Linked DNA regions of Homo sapiens. The protein of the gene in region 1 interacts with the protein of each later gene in a biochemical or structural test. Each region holds a gene or a part of one and is shown on either strand. Other genes may lie near its edges.

Region 1 (2,536 bases):
GCAGCACTTCCTCTTTCACAATGGCCTCTTTTCTGCCTTGCTTGTGGGCTAGAAAAGGAGATAAACCTCATCTAGCAGATGGGGCTTGGGTGCCATGTATGGGAATATTTCCTGGGAGCCAGGCCTCAATTTCCTTATTTCAGGGCCTTCCGGCCCAGGTCCTCTGGCCTGCGTTCTAGGTCTGGGTCAACCTCCATGGATGCCATTCCATGGGTTACCCATCCAGTGGTACTGGGTGTCCACTTCCTGGTTGGAAAGATGCACCTCTCCAAAGAGGCTTCACCTGTCACTCTACAGGGAGAGGACAGTTGGTCCCCTTCCTAGGCTCTCCCTGAGACCTTCCCTTTTTTGTAATTTTGGGACGGTTGGGGCTGCCTTCCTGTCTCTGTCTGCCTCATTCGCTGTATGAAGAGCCCGCCTTTCTAAGCGGATAGGCTTCCTTCTTCCTGCTGAAGTTCATTGGCTCCCCTCCTTGGCCTGTCTCTCTGGGGCTACTGTTCCACTTCCTGTCCTCAGGGGCTCCACTTCCTGATCCATGGAAGCCCAATTCTTGAAGAACTAAGGACTGCATCACATCTGTTTCCTGTTAGGACACATCCACTTCCTGTTCTGGGCTGGCAGAGGGCACCACTGGCCAGGGGCTGTCAGCCTCCTATTTATACTGCTGGGCTTCTTGGGCATGTCTGGGGGACTAGGCTGCATCCCAAGGGTCCTTTTCTCCCTAAAGCTGTCTCCCCATTTTCAACAACTATATATACAAGTAACTTTAGTTTCTTTTTTATTTTTAAACATTTTATTTACAAAAAATTAATTTATTTTCAGAAATAAAACTCTTTTAAGGTGTTGCTTGTTTTGTCTCCACAGATCTGCTGGGAGGCAGTGGAGGTGTGCAGGGACAGGGCAGAGGGGCTGAAGGAAAGGAGGACATCAAAGGGACAGGGCTGAGGCCCAAAGGGATGGGGTGTGGCAGACTGGGGATGTAGGTGGAGTGAGCCTGAGGAAGGTGGCTGAGATGCAGAGTAGCCTTCCCCCCATAGGACCAGCAGGCACGCCCCTGGCCAGGGAAGCACAGAGAGACAGCCAGATGGGGACAAGGAGAGAAGGTGTCACCTCCTTGAGATAAGGCTGAGATGTACACATGTGCTCACACAGGGCCACGAGAAGGCAGGAAGTGGGGATGGAAAAAACAGAGACACCCCAAGAGCTGGGTAAAGGGGGAGGCCAAAGGGAACTGAGGCAGGCCCAAGGAAGGAGGGAGAGCAAGAAAATGGTAGACTCAGACGGAGTTACCATGCAGACGAGGAGGGTCCAAGAGTTAAGAGAACGGGGCAGGCAAAGCAAAGAGAGGCTGGGAAAGTGGCTCACGCCTGCAATCCCAGCACTTAGGGAGGCTGAAGCGGGAGGATCGCTTGAGCCCCGGAGTTCAAGACCAGCCTGGGCAACATGGCGAAACCTCGTCTCTACAAAAAATTAAATAAAAAATTAGCCGGCTGTGGTGGCGCGTGCCTGTAGTCCCAGCTGCTGGGGAAGCTGAGGCGGAAGGATGGCTTGAGCCCAGGAGGTTGAGGCTGCAGTGCTGGGATCGCGCCACTGCACCCCAGCCTGGGCGACAGAGACCCTGCCCGTCCCCTCCCCTCTCCCCCACAAAAAGCAAAGAAGGCCGAGGCAATGGAGACAGCTAAGAGCAGACAGACAGACACCGACAGCGGCAGAGAAAGACAAAGAAGCGGAAGGAGAGACGGAACCCAGCGGGAGGAGGCGGGGCGAGCTGCCCCGCGGCGCTCAGGCCGAGCCCCCGGGCAGCAGCTGGCCCAGGTCGCCCTCGGTGCGGCTCAGCCACTCGCGGTAGAGGCCGCAAACGCGGAGCCCCAGCACCTTGGCGGGGAAGACCCCGGTGGCGGAGGCGGCTGAGGCGGTGGCGGCGGGGGGCTCGGCCCGGGGCCCGCGGTTGGCGGCGCCCAGCGCGGCCAGCAAGGCCTCCACGGCGGCGCCCAGGGCCCGGGCCTGGCGCGCCGCGTCCTCCAGGCGGCGCAGCAGGCGCGGCGCGCGCGGGTTCAGCTCGGCCTGGCGGCGACACACTGCGTCCAGCAGCGGGGGCAGCGCGGCCAGCGCCGCCGCGTCCAGCCGCAGCCGCTCGTGCACTGGCAGCCCCGCGTGGCTCGGAGCCGGGGCGCTCAGGCCGGCCACCGGCAGCCGCGGCGGCGAGAAGCTGGGCAGCCCGAAGGGGTCTCCCTGGAGCTGCACCTGCGGAGACACGGCCGGCGGGTCAGCGGGGCCCCGGAGCACGGGCAGGGGGCTGTTAACTGGGCTCTCCAACCCGCTCTCTGGGGGTGTCAGTTTCCTCATCTTGCAGATGATAATCCCTCCTAACAGAGCTGCTCTGTTTAAGGCAAAACAAAGTGGCATGCGCTTGACACCAATGCCTGTTTCTTCCTCCCTAAACTGGACCCAGACTGGGCCAGTTTAGGTCAGCACTTTGGGAGGCCAAGGTGAGATAATCACTTGAGCCCAGGGGTTCGAGACCAGCCTAGGCAAC
Region 2 (3,819 bases), on another chromosome or scaffold:
GTACTTGCAGTACTGTTCCTGAAAAATCAGGCCCAAATCTTCTCATGTCGTACATTTTTCATATGTCAACCATGGACTGTGCTTTCTGTGTCTGTGATGCGTTCCTGAGTGTATAAAACTGAGAAAGTCCACAGTCCTGTAAGAAGTGCACCCCTGCTGTGTACCACCGAGTGTTAAGGAGGTTTCTGTTCACAGGTTCCTGGTGCATCGATACTCTGTGCTGCAGCAGCATGCAGAGGCCAATGGTGTGGATGGTGTGGATGCTTTGGACACAGCCTCCCACACTAATAAAAGTGGTTATCATGATGACTCAGATGAGGTGAGGCTATTTCTTCTTGAATGGTAGTACCCCCCCCCCCAAAAAATACAAGAAAATAAAGTCTGTCTTCTATTCATGATCAAGATATGCCAGGGCCAAGGCGACTTAATGACCATAAGATTTGGCAAGCCCAGAAACTAGGTGATTGCTTTTGAAATAGGAGTGTTGTGGTCTGTCGGTAATATGGTGCATGTCTTTTTCAGGACCTCTTGGAATAGCTCTTCAGAGGAGCTGGACCCAGCATGGATGGTGGAACCACAGTACCTCTTACACTCCCTGTGGCTCCAACTTCAGGAAATAAATTTCCCATTGCGAGGGACCCAGCTCTGTTTCTGCTGCTTCCATCAAAGCCAAAAGGACCTACACTAAAGAAATGCAGGGTGGGGGTGGGGAACCCTGAGCACTTTTTTACAATTGGCTCTGAGAAAAAGGGAGACATTTTAAATTCTTTAACTTCTTATTTCTCGTCCTGTCTCTTTGCAAAGTATGGGCTTTTTTGTTTTTGTTTTTTAAGGGAAACGAAATGGAATTCGAAGGGACCTTTTCACTAACCCCACTTCTGTGTGTTCTGCATGGCGCCTGCCCCAGGGCATCTGCCAACTCCAGTATCAGCTCTCACAGTGTACTTGGTACCATCCCTGGGCTCTGCTGGCGAGACGAAACAGCTGTAGAGATGAAAACAGGCTGCAGAGGCTGGCACAGCCTGGCCGGCTTTTCTCCATCTGGGGACAGTCCTACTCCAAGAACACTGCACACCAGCTCCTCACACAGATCCCACTTACTCTTTTTTTTTTTTTCAGAGACCACAGACCACAGTGATTTTTCTTTTCCCTTGTTTAATTAGGCAATACCCTTGTTAATTGCCCTTTGGCAACTAACTTAACCATGTGCTTCCCACACAGTACATCAGGAAAACTTACAGGGCAATATTTTTAACTTGGGGCAGGAAGAAGGGAGCAGCAGAGAATTGACTAGATATAGCACCTATTAAAAGAGAACTCTTGCTTCTTCTGAGATTTTTCAAGCTGTGCTTTGTGTGTGTGCCAGTAGACTTACGCAAGGACAGGGTACAAACTTAGCTGGAAGTCTGCCCAGGCTGAATGATCTCTTCCCTAGAGTTGATTGTCGGGTACACAGTGTGAACCCCCGAAGACGGAACCTCACAGTCTTCCATGTTCCCTTCTTAACTGTCGTGTGGCTCGTTGCTAAATCATGACAATGGCTGCCTATCTGCTGCTTCTTAGGTTGCTGTTGTACATGGAACCAGGACTAGAGATTTTTTCAGATTTATAGACTTAAAAAATTAGAATTTTATTACCAGGCTTTCCTTCTCACCCCTTTTTTCTGACTTTGCCAAGTAATTTGTTGACACGAAAATTTTGGAGGAACCAATTGAAAACACACTTCCAGTCTAGATGATGCTTTGTGTGATACATTAAGTTCTTATTTTGGATTAAAAGAAGTTTTCCATTTGATACCTCTCTAAATTAAATAAATTATAGAATGTAGTTGGGTGGATTTTGGGGTGGCCATATAGTAATGGAAAGCTGCAATAATTAGTTTTAATACAGCTTGAATATTTGCTATATAGAAATATAGTATGGAAAGTTTTTGGTCTTAATGTAGCTACTGTGCGGGTCACAGTTTCTCCCAATGATTATGACTGGGACATTCTTTGGTAGATACCATTTGCTACTAGTTTATTTTGTGGCTAGAAAGTCAGTTTTGTGTGTTTTTTTTTTTTTTTATTTGAAGTGCCAAATTAACTTTAGTCAGAATGTGAGCAGATGGCTAAGTTCTCTCCTCCCCAGAATGGATTAACAGCTGCGTGGAAAGTGGGGGAGAGAGTGGATGGAGACTTTTAGAGATGTTAAAACTGCAGTAGAATGAAATGAGTCAGGGAGCTTCAGTTAGAAAATAAAGTTGAGGCAGTTTTTGTGAAGATAATATGGTTAGGGCTGGAGTGCACTAGTCTTTTTGCTTATTCATTTTGCATGGTTTTAAAATTAAAAATAATTCCGAAGATACACCAGCTCACAAATGAAAACGTCAGCCTCTGCCCCACCCTCCCTCCTGCCCAAAGTGAATTTGGTACTCAGAAAAGAACTGTTTATACCACTCACCTTTCTCCCAGCATGTACTCACTGTGGGCAGATGCACCAATACATGGTAATCCTCTTACTCATTTTAAGACGTAGGAAACTCAATATTCTTCTCTAACCATATACGATAGGGCTCTTCGCTTTTAATGATATCTGGGATTTCTGTGGAACTTGGCAAATTTTCAGAGCACCTTCACTCACATAATGTCATTTGAACCTCACAATGTTCTTGGGATGGAGTCAGTTGTTCAGGGTCCCCGTGTGTGTGATAAGCAGTGCTGGCTGGCTGTCTTCAGAACTCTTGGAAATCTTTACACATGCGAGTGCTAACCACTTTGAGCAAGGCTGCCTTCTTGTAGATGACTTGCTGTTCTTTATGACAGGGATCAGTGGCATTTGTTTCCTAGCAGTATTTAGCACCTTTTTGCCACCTTGGTGAACAGAAAATTGTATTTTCCTGTCTTTCATGGCTGAAAACAAAAGTAATGGGAATTTTAAATACGTTTGCAGAAACTGCCCCTCCCCTCATTGAGGGTCACTGCTCAAGAGTGCAGGAGTGGACTCTCCACTGATGGGTCTCCCTCCCCATCCTGGTTTCCACCCCGGGCTGGCTAGCTCTGTTGGTTTGAAGACTGACAGCCAGCCTGGCTCATTCTCATTATTGGCTAGTTAGCTTTCTTTATCAACCTGCTCACTCACAAATGTGTGCCCTCAGCCAGAGAGTAAGAAAGCCCAAATCTGTTACAGCTTCTAAAAAAATAGATTTCTAATTTGTCCTACTCATGTTAGGAGCATTATCTTTGAAGGTAAAACATAGTGTATCATTGTGTAAACTCCCAGGCTTGATGTAGCAGAAGAGATCATTTCTGGAGGCTTCAGCAATGGAATTTAGCATTATAAGAGAGATTGGACAAACCAGTCCAAAGTGGTCCGAGTTCTTAAATCCAGGTAGGGAACTCACTCTTCTTTCTTCTCTGGACCTAATTGGGCATTGGGCTTTAGTGAGACCACAGACCAGGCCCGTCTCTCCTGTAGGCTTTTAATTCAATGGCAACTCTATTTCAAAGAATAAAAGCCTTTGGAGAGTTGCGGCAGTTCTGGGGGCGGGCTCAGGAGAGTCCATAGATCAGCCGTAACTGGAACGTAGAATCTACGTCTGCCTCTGAATGGACTTCCCACCTCCTCTCTCTTGCTCTGATGCTTGCCTCTGGGCCTCTCCATGCCCAAGGTGGTCTTTCATCCTTGACAGGCTGGTAATGTGCTGGCCACCTCCAGCTCCTGCATCGAGTCTGTAAACCAGAGCTGGTTCTCATGGCCTTCGTCACGATACCAGGATACGGAGGGGAGCCCAGGGCCATCCATACCCACCCCAGGGTAACGGGGCTGGCCTGGCATTAG

What was found.
Region 2: the proteins of CTF1 (region 1) and SORT1 interact in a biophysical measurement, tested with the Homo sapiens proteins (one study listed by IntAct).

The regions. Positions count from the first base shown.
Region 1 is NC_000016.10:30,901,786-30,904,321, reverse strand, and holds the end of CTF1 (cardiotrophin-1), read right to left. Parts: intron 2,245-2,536; coding exon 1,783-2,244; 3' UTR 775-1,782; downstream 1-774. UniProt on the Homo sapiens protein: Induces cardiac myocyte hypertrophy in vitro. Binds to and activates the ILST/gp130 receptor.
Region 2 is NC_000001.11:109,310,761-109,314,579, reverse strand, and holds part of SORT1 (sortilin isoform 1 preproprotein), read left to right. Parts: intron 1-195; coding exon 196-319; intron 320-522; coding exon 523-537; 3' UTR 538-3,819.